Linked DNA regions of Homo sapiens. The protein of the gene in region 1 purifies or fractionates together with the protein of each later gene. This does not show direct contact. Each region holds a gene or a part of one and is shown on either strand. Other genes may lie near its edges.

Region 1 (7,022 bases):
GTGCTGGTCTGAACAGAGCCTTCGTTTTCTTCCCACCCTCTGAGCCTCCCTCCCTTCTGGTCCCTCTGTCGTGTGCCCCCACTGCCTGGACCTGATGTCCCCAGAGCTTGCCTGCCACACCCCAGATCAGGCCCGAGGCCTCCCCACTAAGGGAACCCCGGATGGTCCCCCCGTCGTCATTGACTCGGTGCTGCTTCTTGAAAGCAAGCCTCAACCTCTGGTTTGTGTTGGAGTCGCACGGGGGGCAGACCCCTCCACCCACTCCCAGAGACGCTGAGCAGGGCCGCAGCAGGGACCAGGAATCTGTGCTGTTGATGAGGACCGCGCCCCCCCGGGGGACTCCAGTGGAAGCAGCGCATCTGCATTTGCAGCCAAACTGGCCGAGCGCTGCCGCTCTGCCTCCACTGACCCAGTCACCTGCTCCCACCTCCTCCCAAGCCACCCAGCATTTGCCAGCGGCCCGGTAGGAGTCATGGCCCCTGCTCAGGGTGCCTCCCCCTTGGCCAACTCCCACAAATCTGTCTTCACACCCAGACTCAACAGCACCTCCCCGGGAAGCCTTTTCTGACTCTTCCCACTGAGCCACGGGTCTTCCCGTCTAAAGCAGTGGGCCTGGAAAAGGGAAAGCTGGTCAAATACAGAATCCCGGGCTCAATATCCCTGAGGCTAGTTCAGTCACCTGGGGTTTGGCACACAGGAACTGGCCTTTCTAGGTTCCTTGAGAATTCTGTGCCTCCTTCTATTATGACAGGGCTTCTCAAATGTCAACGGGCACGGGAGCCTCCCAGGCATCTGCTTACCGTACGGTGTCTGAGTCAGGAGGTCTGGAGTGGGCTTGGGAATGTACATTTCTGACCAGCCCCCAGAAGACGCTGCCACCACTGGTCAGGGGACCACAGTGGCAATGTACTACAGCCCCGTCCTTGAACTCGACCCCTCAGTGGACTGTGAGTGTCAAGAGGCTATGGGCTGGCCTTACTCATTTTTTCTATTGCCTCTAGAATATAAGCTCTCTGAGGTTAGGGATATTTTTCCCTGTGTTGTTCCTGGCACATGGAATGGTGCCTGGTCCACAGCAGGTGTGCAGTGAACACGTTTGTGAATGAACGAATTTCTCTATCTGTGCATGGTGCAAAGTCAGTGCTTGGCCAGTTTGGCTGAAGCAAGGAAGGAATGAATCAAGCGGCCCCTCACCCCCCAGCTGCCCCGGAGGCACTCACAGCTCAGGGCCAGCAGGCCAGCGTCTGTGACCGGGGTCTCGCACAGGTTCAGCACCTGGAGCATGGTGAGGTGTTCCGACAGGAGCCGAAGGCCAGCGTCTCCAAACTGTAGAGCACAGAAACTCTCAGCCCTCTCCCGGCCACTCCTGGGGAAGTGACTCTGAGGCTGGGGCAGAGGTGGAGGAAAGGGATGGGGACAGAGCCTGGCTCTGAGGCCCATGGCCCACCAAGCCCTGGGGTCTGGGCTGCGTTCACGTCCCCTAAACAATCCCACGCCTCTCTGAACCGGGTTAGAATCCAGCTTCTGCTGTTGGGAGTGGAGCCAGGCCAGGGCCCCCTTGGAGTCAGTTTTGCCTCCATGAAGGAGGGCTTTGAACTTGTCTCTCCCTAGCTTCGAGATGCTGCCTAGGTGGCTTTCTCCTGCTGGGTGGACAGTGGAAGGACAGGGCTGGGCCGGGGGCAGGCTGCAGGGACTGTCCCCAGTTTCTCCTCTGGAAAATTAGGGTGAGGGTAGAACCTGCACTTCACAGGTGTGCAGTGAAGGCCCCTTCATCTGCCCTGTGCAGAGTACTGAGCAGTGCAGTTCACACTGAGCTGGGACTCAGCAGCCACTGGTGTTACTATAACAAAAAGACCCAGAAGCCTCCTGCGCAGCCCCCCGCAGGCCAGCGAAGCCTGGCTCACGTCTCAGCTCTACCTCTCAGAACCTCAGGACTCGGAACTGGGCACATTATTTCCAAATGGGAAATGGGCTGCAGGGCTTCATGAGGTCCTCAACCTCCTCTAGCCTCAGGGAGTGGGTGCTGAGCTTGAGGGAAGGGTCGTGTGGTAAGCAATGCCTGGGGTGTAGGCAGGGAAGCGGGTGAGGGGCAGGGAGGAGGGTGAGGGGGCAGGGAGGAGGGTGACGGGGGCAGGGAGGAGGATGAAGGGGTAGGGAGGAGGGTGAACGAGTTAGGGAGGAGGGTGAGGGGACAGGGAGGAGAGTAAGGGGGACAGGGAGGAGGGTGAGGGGGCAGGGAGGAGGGTGAGTGGGTGGGGGGGTGAGGGGGCAGGGAGGAGGGTGAGTGGGCAGGGAGGAGGGTGAGGGGAAAGAGAGGAGGGTGAGGGGGCAGGGAGGAGGGTGAGGGGGCAGGGAGGAGGGTAAGTGGGTAGGGGAGGGGGAGGGGGCAGGGAGGAGGGGGAGGGGGCAGGGAAGAGGGTGAGGGGAGCAGGGAGGAGGGTGAAGGGGCAGGGAGGAGAGTAAGGGGGGCAGGGAGGAGGGTGAGGGGGCAGGGAGGAGAGTAAGGGGGACAGGGAGGAGGGTGAGGGGGCAGGGAGGAGGGTGAGGGGAGCAGGGAGGAGGGTGAAGGGGCAGGGAGGAGAGTAAGGGGGGCAGGGAGGAGGGGGAGGGGGCAGGAAGGAGGGGGAGGGGGCAGGGAGGAGGCTGAGGGGAAAGGAAGATGGTACGGGGGAATAGGGAGGAGAGTGCAGAGGTGAAGGAGGAGGGTGTGGGGGACTGCAGCAGGGCGGGAGGACGTACCTGAGTGGACCACAGGTTCAGCTGCTTGAGCGAAGGCAGTTTGATGAGGTGCTCGGCGCAGGCACTGGTTACATTGGTGAAGGCCAAACTGAGGTTCTCCAGGTTTCCGAAGGAGCCGGAGCTCAGCAAACGAGCCAAGTCAGCGTCCTGCGGGCAGACGGGGGAGAGGCCTGAGGGTGCTGCTGGGAGTTCCCGAGACCCTGAGCCCTCCTATCCCCTATCCTCCTCCTCTCCCCTCGCCCTACAGAGAGCTGTTCCTGGGGGGCGGTAAATCCCAGGAGCTGAGATGGGGGCACAGCTCGGTGGGATGGGCCAAGGGGGTGGCCAGAGAGGGAGGGGCTGCCACGCATCCCATGGACGACAGCTGCCAGGCGGAGGAGAAAGCCTCCAGTGCTGTGACTCACACCCTGAGGCACCAGCGGGGTGTTCCAAGGCCACGATCCTCCCACAGGCGTCTGTGTGTGTGTGTGTCTGTGTGTGTGTGCCTGTATGTGTGTATATCTGTGTGTGTCTGTGTGCACGTTTGTGTATGCATGTGTCTGTACATGTGTGTGTCTGTGCACGTCTGTGTATATTTGTGTGTGTGTGTGTTGGTGTGTCTCTGTGTGTCTGTGTCTGTGCATCAGGGTGTGTGACTGGCTGCCTCACTCCTGGGCAGCAGCTCATGCCAACACTGAGGCCACACTCAACTCTAATGCCTGAAGACACCAGCGCATGCCTGAGCACCGGACTGGGAGGTTCCTAAGACAACCTCCACACTCCCCTCCATCCTTGAGTGTCAGCGGCCCTGTGGCTGCCCGGAATGAAGGCTGATTTAGTGTGTGGCCCCACACACTAAATCTGGAAAATGGGATGTAAGTAGACATGTCAAGTAGAACTTCCAGGAAGTTTCTTAAGAGGAAGGGGCACGTTCTCCTTCCTGCTGGCTGGAATGGAGACAAGAGGTCTGGAGCCTGAGCAGCCCTTTTGGTCCAGGAAGTAGAAGCCATGTGTCAAATATAATGGGGGCATCAGAATAGAAGGAAATAAGACCCTTAAAGACCTTGTGAAATGCGAATGGTAAGATACACAAGCTTCCAAGGGTTGCTGTGAGGATAAAACAAACTAATAGAAGAGCATCTGACACACAAATGCTCAAGGTATATCTGCTATTATTCCAAGTACTATTAATAACTAGATATCAACACTATTATCACCAACAATCTGTATCATATTTTAACTTCCTTTTTGGTTTTCATTTCTCTTCCTGTAACCCAGCTACCTCCTGGAAGAGCTGGCGTGTTAAGTACTAGGGGGTCCTTGTGCCCCGCCCTCCATCACCTCCCATCTCAGCAGCAGACACCACCTGCCGTTCCCCAACAGAGAGGACCAACCCACCTTCTCCATCCAGCCCCAAAGAGAACCAAACCAACTCACTGTGGACTTGGAGGGCAGTGTTAGCCTGGTGGGCCCGCCTTTCCTTTGCTGCAACAGAAACCAGGCTGGTTACAACCATTCTTTTCCCCAAGTTTCCATTCTAGACTTCCACCTCTGTTAACAACACTCATGGAGCCATCGTTATTTTCTTGGTGGTACAAGGCAACACGGTGGTCTTGGTCTCAGGGGCAAACCCGGAGATGAGGTTTGAGCACAGGTGGTTTACTGGAGGGTGATCCCAAGAAACACCAGTGGGAGAGTGGGGAAGTGACACTGTGGCTACCTATAATGGAAGGGGTGTTATCAATCCAGCTATCACTGGGTGGGTACTGGCACCAAATCCCACCGGGGGACTCTAAGAAATGGTGGAGAAGCCATGTCTCAAACATATCTCACTGAAGGGGTGAGGGAGCTGGGGTATTTCTACACACTCTCCCCAGAAGGGACTGGTTGAGGGCTGCTCCAGGAGATCAGAAGGCATGAATTTCCTGCCCCTTCCGTCCTTCTGTGTACACATGTGTGAGTATATGCATGTGGACATACAAAGTCCTTCAGCAAAGAGGTGTGGGTGCTGGCATTTGGAAGTTGGGTCCCCCATGTACTGAAATGGAAGGGTCTAAGGGACATGGAGGAGGGAGGGTGGGCAATGTCCTGGCCAGGCCCCAATGAGCTGTGTGACTCTGGGGATTGCTTTGCTTCTCTTTGATTACCTGAAAAGTGGCAGGTGGTAATACCAATTTCTGGGGTTTGGAGGAGAATTCAACGAGATTGAGGTCCACTCAGGTCCAAGTACTAGCTGCCCCGCATCCCGCCCTGGCCCCCCCTGGCCTGCTGGGCAGGGGAGTGGTCCGGAGCAGCCGGGGACTCACCAGCTCCTTCAGCTCCCGCTGCCGGTCACACAGCTGCTCGTACATGCGCTTCCCCACGTCTGTGCTCTCCAGGGTTGAGATGATCTGCAGTTGGGTGTCGTTGTTGTCGATGATGTTGTATTCCAGCATCAAGCACAGGATCTGTCCAGAACCGCAGGGGTGCATTACGGACCCGGCCTGCCACCCTAGCTCAGCACACTCTGTGCACCCCAAGGGCCTTGTTTTGAAAACCAGCAACCCCACTATCCCCTTTCTGCAGCCCCGGCTGTGTAAGCCTGGGCAAATCACCTGCCCAACTTCCTGCTTGTACAATGGTAGCACCAGTGACCACGCACTGAGGTTCTCCAGGTTCAAATGTCAATGGACATGGGAGTCTCCCAGGCATCTGCTTACCGTGCGGTGTCTGGACATGGGGCAGGCCCCCGGGGGATGTTTGCAGGCCCCTGAGCACTGGTGGAAAGGCCAGAAGTTAAGACACCTCTCTCTCCCCAGTTCCTTCCCCAGTGGCTGTCATGAAGTAGGTGCTCAAACTCACGGAATGGCTCAGAGCCCTGGGCCCATCTACCACACAGCTTCCTAGAGGGCCTCATGACTGCACATGTGGCTCTTCGGCCTGGGGGTCAACACGCCTGACAGCCCTGCCTCTGACATTCCCTTTCCAATGACGATTTTTTTTTTTTTTGAGATGAGGTCTTGCTATGTTGCCCAGGCTAGTTTCAACCTCCTGGGCTCAAGTGATCCTCCTACCTCAGCATCCCAAGTTGCTGGAACTACAGGTGCATGCCATGGTGCTCAGTTCTAGAACTTCTCACTCACCAAGGAGCAGGTCACTCAGCCCACGCTTCTCACAGCGCCTCTTGCCTGTCTCCTGTCTCCCTGCTCAGCCCTCCCCCATGGCCTCCGAATCCCTGTCACAGGACAGCCAAGATTAAATCCAAACTCCTTCCCAGCACCTCTAGGTACCCAGAAGGCTCTTCATGCCCATCCAGCCACATCCCAGACCTCTTGCCCCTTGGCTCCCTGTGTTCCAGCCACCCTGGCCTCCAGCAAGCCTCCGCCCGGGATGTCCCCACAGCCTGCTCAGCTCCCACCTTCCCGCTGCCTCTTCCCCAGGGCTCACATCTGCCCGAACTCTCATTTCCACGGGAGCTCCCATGGCTTTGCTGCGCCTGCCAACTCTTCGATGCTCTTCCCACTGAGGGGTGAAGTCTAGCTCCCACGGCTTTGACTGAGGGCCGGCCGCGGTGACTCACTGCCAGCAGGAGGATGTGGCAGAAGTGATGCCGCCTGCCTTCCAAGGGAGGCTAAGTTAAAAAGTGACATGGCTTCTGCCTTGGTTCCCTTGGGACAGTTGCTCTGGGAGTCTCAGGCTTCTGGGGACTTTGGGACAGTTGCTCTGGGAGTCTCAGGCTTCTGGGGACTTTGGAGCGTGCAGGGAGAGAGAGGAGCAGCAGCAGGTGAGGGGTGACCTGTGGGGCTGGGTGTGTGTGTTCTTGGCAGGTGGACAGGCTACCTGGAGGCCACGAGGTGAAGGGTGCGGCTGGGGAGCCCCAGCCGCCAAAGCCCTCATTGTCTGAGGCCTCTTAGGCCAATGCGAGAAGCCTTGGGGCTAACCCAACCTGGCCCCATCTGACTGATGAGGCCCCAGGTGAGAAGTGCGTAGCTGCGCCCAGGTACCCCAATGCCCATGTGCAAAAGAAATGAACGATCTTGTTTTAAAGCCCTCACTTAGAGGTGGTTTGTTACACAGCAATAAATGAGCAGAACAGAAGCGTCCCCAACCCCACTGATCAATGGATCAGCTGGATCACAACAGAAACAAATACACTGCATGATGAAGGCTCGAGGCTCCCACTAAGCTCAGGACGGCTGGGACTGCACGCCTCACCCACTGCCCCCCGTGCCTGCAGCAGCTCCTGGCTCCCAGCAGATGCTCTATCGGCACGGACAAGGGACGGGGAGCCAGCCACCCCACCAGGGACCCCGACCAGCTCCTTA
Region 2 (6,830 bases), on another chromosome or scaffold:
TTGAGATGTAAGGTTTATTCAAAGATTATAGCTTCCCATTCTATCAATGCAACCTATACAAATTCTATTTCTTCTTTTCATATCGCATTTTGTGTTTTCAAACACTTGGAGGAAGCAAGAGTCTTCTCCACCATGACTTTAATTTAAACTAAAGCCCTCATTCTAAAATGTCTTCTGCCCACCCCAGTTGCTTCATACATTTGAGAGTATACTTGGAGGCTATGCCTTGTGGATGACTGTCAACCTCTCCTTTTCTGAAATACTGTCCTCCTGTCCAATATCCTTCAACTTACTAACAGTTATTTGACTTTACTCAATCTTTGGTCTGTAATTTATTTGCAATTCTTAAAATTGTTTTTACAGATGTGAGTGAACACTTGTCCTGGAACACAAACAAAGTCCTAAGGCATTGCACAGCAGTGGGGCAAGTAAATGCTCTTTATCACAAGATGTCTAAGAGAGCTCATGGTGTTTACAAGGAAAATACATGCACTTTAATTATTTTGAATGCATTTTACCAGTACGATAATATATGCAGGCTTTCCCCATCAAACATTTAGCACCCAATATATAATGAGACCTTTTCCAGAAATAACTGGAAAACAATCACTTTTCAGGCTTTTAAATTCATTAGCTTTACTTGTCTATTCAATGCCCTAAAGAAACTCAGTCAACTATCATCTATGCTTATAAGACACTGAAAAAAACACCCCGCTCAGAGATCCATTGATCTGATGCCGGATGAACTGATGAGTTTAGTGTTTTGTTATATACCATGCTAGATATTTCTGAGAATATAGATTTTTTATTCCTACTGTGGATTTTAAAAAAACAATAAAGGCTAGATAAACCACAAACTCAAGTTGCAGGGGGCTAGTTTTCTTAGAGAAATTACTAATATCAAAAACAGCCCCAGTACTCATGTGCACACACACTTTAAACAGAAAAGCCTGCACATTTTAAAGGCAAAAGAGAAAGTAAATGTTTAACTAGGTAGTATTGTTTTATTATACATACTTCTAGTCAGAAGGAAGAGAGACTGTGAAAGCAAACCCAAACAAGCTAAGTGTGGATGTGGGCATTTCTACTTCTATTATTTTTTTAACTCACTATTTTCTTGGTTTGATTTTTTTCTAAACTAGAAAGTTAAAGAGGGGAAAAGTACTTGATTCTGTTAAGCATCCTACCATATTACAACAGAGAGGTGTTTGGAGATTCTTGTGCCTTCACAGGCTTGTATCTCCATTCTGCTTGAACTCAGGTAAAATATTGAGGGTCATGTCTTCACTCTTGGATTGCAAATTTGCCTCACTTCTTCTAGAAGCTTTCCTTGTGGCTCGGGAGAGTCTCCTTCTGAAAGTATCTCCCGCCAAGAAATAGAGAATGGGGTCCACACAACTGTTGAGACTTGCTAGACCTCTTGTCACCTGATACGTGGCATAAACCCTGTCATTGAAAGCACACATTGCTGGGGTCTGAAAATCAAGCCGGGCCCTCAAGTTCATCGTTTTCATCACATGGAAAGGGATGTAAGACACAGCAAAAACAGTCAGTACAATGATTACCAGGTAAATCGATTTTCTCCTCAGAGGAGAGTTGTCCAGATCTTTGTAAATCAAAGCTCTCACAATTAATCCGTAACAGCCCAGAATCAGCACCAAGGGGACACAGAACATGGCCACGGTCGTGCACATGCTGTAGATGAAATAACTTCGCAGGTACTCGTCTGAGGTGGTGTCGTAACAGGTGATGGTTTTGTTTTTGCGGACCCCGGTACCTGAGTAGAAGAGGATGGGGGAGATCGCCACCACCACAATGAGCCACACCAGCACGCTGATACAGATCGCATTCTTCTTTTTGAGCCGGCCCAGGGACTTGAGGGGGTACACCACACCGCTGTACCGGTGGGCACTGATGCATGTCAGAAACAAGATGCTGCCATAGAGGTTCACATGAAAGATGAACCTCTGCAGTTTACACATGGCATCCCCGAAGATCCAGTCTGTTTTATTGAAGTAGTAGAAGATCAGGGCTGGCAGAGTCAGCACGTACAAGAAGTCGGCCAGAGCCAAATTGAACATGTACACGGAGATGCCGCTCCAGGGCTTCATGTGGAAGACGAACATCCAGATGGCCACGCTGTTGCCCAGGAAGCCGATGATGAATACCAAGATGTAGACAGCCGGCAGGTAGTAAAACTGGAAGCCCGTCTTGGTCAAGGCGCATTTGAACGACGAGGAGACGGCGGCAGTGGAGGCGACCGTGCTGTTCCCCCAGGACGAACCCGGACCGGCCAGGAAGGCAGCGTCCGTCCCGTTGGGGACAGCCGGCCACAGCACCTCGGTCATTCTCTCCTCCTCGACTTAGGCGGCGGCTCCGAGGGGTAGGAGGCGGCGAGAGGGCAGCGGCGGCCAGGGGCGCAGCAAGCATCGGAAAAGCCAGCGAGCGGAAGGGAGCAGGCGAACTGGATCCCCGCGGGAGGGGGCGCGCAGGGGCTCGCCCACGCCAGCTCTGGCCCCGCGTTCGCCGCGGGCCATGAAATCCGCCCCGGGCCGCCACCGAACTGGGCTATCGGGCAAGCCAGCAACTTCTCCGTCCGCTGGCAACGCCGAGCTTACACAACAGGGCGCGCAGGGAACCGCCGCGGATAACTTTCCGACTGCGCTTTCCCGAGGGGCCGCGGGTCCGCGCTGCAGAGCGCGCCAGAGGCGCAGCGAGGTCAAGGGAAACTCGCTCTGCAGGGCTCTAGCTTGGGGAGGCTGCTCCCCAGCCTCCTTGGCTCAAAGATCAACTTAATTGGGGGCATCTTCCTCCTCCCTACCTTAGAAACGTGCAGCTCAGTTTCGGGGCGTCTAACCGCTTCCTCCGCCCACCCTGAGCTCAGCTCCTGGCAGCCATCGGAGCGCGCGTGGCCGCAGACTCGTGCGCTTCTGCAGCGCGTCCCGTTCGGCGTCCGCGTAGTTCAGGAACCCCTTCCCCAGGCCCAGCTCTGTCCGGAGTGCCGGGGTTAGGCGGGAGAGCGGAGCTCCCTAGAGGGTGGGCGGAGTTTGGGCACCGGGGCGAGTCCGCACTCCGCGGGGAGGCGAGGGGCGTGCCTCCGCCGAGCTCGCCCAGCAGCCAGCCCGCGTCCTCCAGGGCGCAGTGGGAAGCAGGAGGCGTCTTCTGGGGAGCAGGTCTCCGCCGAGGCCGAGTGTGTTCAGCCTCTGCCGGCACGCTGCTACCGGAGTCGGCGGCGAGGGAGAGGGGTGCGCTCCAAGGTGGCTGCTGGCAGGCGATTGGCCCGCGAGCGCTCCTTCCCTCTTCCGCCAGCTATCTCGGCAAAGTGAAGTTGCTGACACACAGGAAACCCTTCCGACCGCTTAGAGCCTTCTGCCTACAACCCCAGAGCCGACCAGTCCGTAGCAGGAGCCTCTAGGGCCCTCGAGAACCACGCCAGGTGTTTTCAAGCTCCAAGCAGCCAGGAGTCCCTAGCTGGGAACGCCTGTCATTGCAGAGCGTCTAGCTTTGCCGGGACCGGATTTCTGGCACATGCAGGAACCTGCTATTCCAAGAGGGCGCGAGCCTCCAAAGGAATGAGGGTTGGGAGAGGAGTGGAGAACTCTGTTTCGCCCTTCTTACCTTTTTTTTTCTTTTTTTTAAATTCTAGTACTGTTTTTTCTTAATTACCCAAATGCTAATAAACCCACGTCATTAATAACATCAACGTGAGAATTTCCAAAATAGTCTTGTGAAGATATTACTAGTCCATATTGCACATTGCTTCAGCTCAAATTTGTCGTCATAGATACTTAACACCTATCAGACAAGACAAGCTCCCCAAATCCTCCTGTTCAGTACATTTAAAGATCAGAAGCTACAATGAAAAAAAAAAATTCGAAATTTATCCCTTTGAAAGTAATTTGAATGCCAAATGCAATACATTTATATTGATAGACGTAAAAGACGGTTATAATTCCAAAGTGACTAAGGTATGGTTTTGGTAGGGGGTGGCGGGGGGAGGGGGGTATTTCCAATTCTATTTCTTTAAGTTAAAGTGATTAGTTACAATTACCTCTAGTATCTTAAAAATACAGACTTGGGACTTCCTTAATTACTACATTTACTGACAAACTCGTTTTCTTGCCTTGAATGTAAATTTTAAGCAATGCACTTCAAAAATGTATTTGAGCAAGTTTAATTGGAAACTAAATGAAATATTAGCTGTTCAGGAACATATATAAATGGACCCGCACAAGAATGGAATCTAGCACTTCTTGACAAGTTACTAGTTAATGTATTTTTACATGACACATTAACAAAAGCTTTTCTCTTAGAGGAAAAAAAATCCAAAAAGAAAATATCTGTAAAATATATAACATCAAGATTTCTTTCTGGTCCCAGATGCTACATGATAGTGTTCCCTTAAAAAATAAAGGAAAACCACGAGCTCCTGGCTTTGATACCACAAAGGAAAATATCCCCCACAAGATCCAGATGGTTCTTTAGAGGAACACATATAGGAAGGAGCATATCTTAGCACATGGTATGAATACACTGGGTTTTGAATTGTAGTCAATTGAACAGCATAAAAATTAATAATAAAACAAGAGTAAATAATTCAAGTAAACAGTGTGAATGAGGTTGTCTTGAAAAGTCTTACTTTTTGTGTTTCCTTCCAATCTCCTGATTATATGAGTCTATGATTCTGAGCCTTAACATGAAACATTTGTGTATTGTTTGATTAGTATGGTCCTAGGTGGGATGATTGTCTATTAAGAGAGAAAAGGAAGCAAAGAAAACCATTAAGGGTTCCAGGGGTACTCAATAGGTCTTAAGTCCTCACTCCTTTGCATTTTTTATTTGCAACCTAGGCAATATCTGACTTCACTCAGAAGTTTGTTGCAAATGCATTAACTCATAATGTGAGTGTTTTGAAATGTACACTTAGTCCAGATACCATTAAGTACTTGCAGAAAACTGACACCTTACTAGGAATTGGGGGATAGTTGTTTTAAGTGCACCACAGACTTTTTAAAAAATGATGTTAAAAAATAAATTTTGGGCTGGGCGCTGTGGCTCACGCCTGTAATCCCAACACTTTAGGAGGCCGAGGTGGGCAGATCACGAGGTCAGGAGATGGAGACCATCCTGGCTAACACGGTGAAACCCCCTCTGTACTAAAAATACAAAAAATTAGCCGGGTGTGGTGGCGGGCACCTGTAGTCCCAGCTACTCGGGAGGCTGAGGCAGAAGAATGGTGTGAACACAGAAGGCGGAGCTTGCAGTGAGCTGAGATCGAGCCACTGCACTCCAGCCTGGGCGACAGAGTGAGACTCCGTCTCAAAATAAATAAATAAATAAATAAATAAATAAACAAACTTTGTAAGCATTGCTTTTGCATTCAACATATTTAACTACACAGTTATGTTTCAGTTATGCTTTAAATCAAAATTTTGCCTTGTGGGAATAAGTTACATATATTCAGTAATTACTATAACTTTCTATTTGTAAAACATTCAACTATTATTAATGAAGAAAAAATCTAAGAATCATTATTCACATTTGAACATCAATTATAGATGGCTTAAAGACATGATAAAAAATTCTTACATATTTAAGTGACATCCCTAAGCATTCCATGTTAATTTTTTTTTTTTTTTTTTTGAGACGGGGTCTCACTCTGTCGCCCAGGCTGGAGTGCAGTGGCGCAATCTCGGCTCACTGCAAGCTCCACATCCCGAGTTCATGCCATTCTCCTGCCTGGCGTGGGACTACAGGCGCCCGCCATCATGCCCGACTAATTTTTTTGTATTTTCAGTAGAGACGGGGTTTTCACAGTGTTAGTTAGCCAGGATGGTCTTGATCTCCTGACCTCATGATCCGCCCGCCTCAGCCTCCCAAAGTCCTGGGATTACAGGCATGCATGAGCCACCGCGCCCGGCCTGCCATTACTTTTAATGGCAGTCTTGGACTCATAAACAAAAAGGTTGCCCTTCTTATGCCCTTATATTTAAGTAGCAGTGTAAGAACCTGACTTCAAGAGATTTACAATTTAGTTGGAAATGCAAATAATATATATAGCTAACCATAATAGTAAATATAACAATAGCAATAAAAATAGGCCTTTGCTGTACACTCAAGTACTGTGTACATGTAAAAAGGATTATCTCTTTTCACCCTTAAAATATGCATGATGATATTTGGCCATTGTATTCCCATTTTATAAGTGATGAAACTAAGGTACAGGGAGGTTAAGTAATTCACCCATAGTCACACAGTAGATACTGGGATTTAAATGTAGGCTGTTTGTCACTGAAGTCTATGCATTCAGCCACTATCCCATGATGAAAAAAAGCAAATACGGGGCACTGAGAGAAACGTTAACTTTTAGTGGCCAGCACAGATTGCGTTTAGAAAGCGTTACTCCCAGAAGCCTTCCCTCAGGAGAGAAAATTCTAAGCCAGATATTGAAGTTATTGATAGTCAAAGAGTATTTCAGAAGCTTCTAAATATTCCACTTCTCTACATAGGCTTCTTAAAAACAGCCAGCGATTTACCTATAATCTGAGAGAGAAAATCACTGGGACATCAGATCTGTTGAGTTTTAGACTCATAAACAAAAAGGTTGCCCTTATTATGTTTACAAAGATTTTTATCACCATATTTAGAAAATCTCTATTTTCTTTTTCTTTAAGCCACAGAAAATCCAACAATCATTAAGAATGGGAAAATCATTGGAAAAATTCCAATTGAGGGCCACAGGCAGAAAAGGGAAAAAGAAACTTCTCATAAACATAAAATATGAAATCTCCCATCTGAGTAGAGACCAAAAAACCATCAGATTTGACTAA

The links. The genes of interacting proteins can lie anywhere in the genome.
Region 2: the proteins of CMIP (region 1) and P2RY1 purify together in Homo sapiens (affinity purification with mass spectrometry; 2 studies listed by BioGRID and IntAct, with this or other methods). This does not show direct contact.

Annotation. Positions count from the first base shown.
Region 1 is NC_000016.10:81,699,803-81,706,824, reverse strand, and holds part of CMIP (C-Maf-inducing protein), read right to left. Parts: intron 5,166-7,022; coding exon 5,025-5,165; intron 4,204-5,024; coding exon 4,156-4,203; intron 2,887-4,155; coding exon 2,740-2,886; intron 1,327-2,739; coding exon 1,221-1,326; intron 1-1,220. UniProt on the Homo sapiens protein: Plays a role in T-cell signaling pathway. Isoform 2 may play a role in T-helper 2 (Th2) signaling pathway and seems to represent the first proximal signaling protein that links T-cell receptor-mediated signal to the activation of c-Maf Th2 specific factor.
Region 2 is NC_000003.12:152,831,301-152,838,130, reverse strand, and holds the start of P2RY1 (P2Y purinoceptor 1), read right to left. Parts: upstream 3,001-6,830; 5' UTR 2,349-3,000; coding exon 1,227-2,348; 3' UTR 1-1,226. UniProt on the Homo sapiens protein: Receptor for extracellular adenine nucleotides such as ADP. In platelets, binding to ADP leads to mobilization of intracellular calcium ions via activation of phospholipase C, a change in platelet shape, and ultimately platelet aggregation.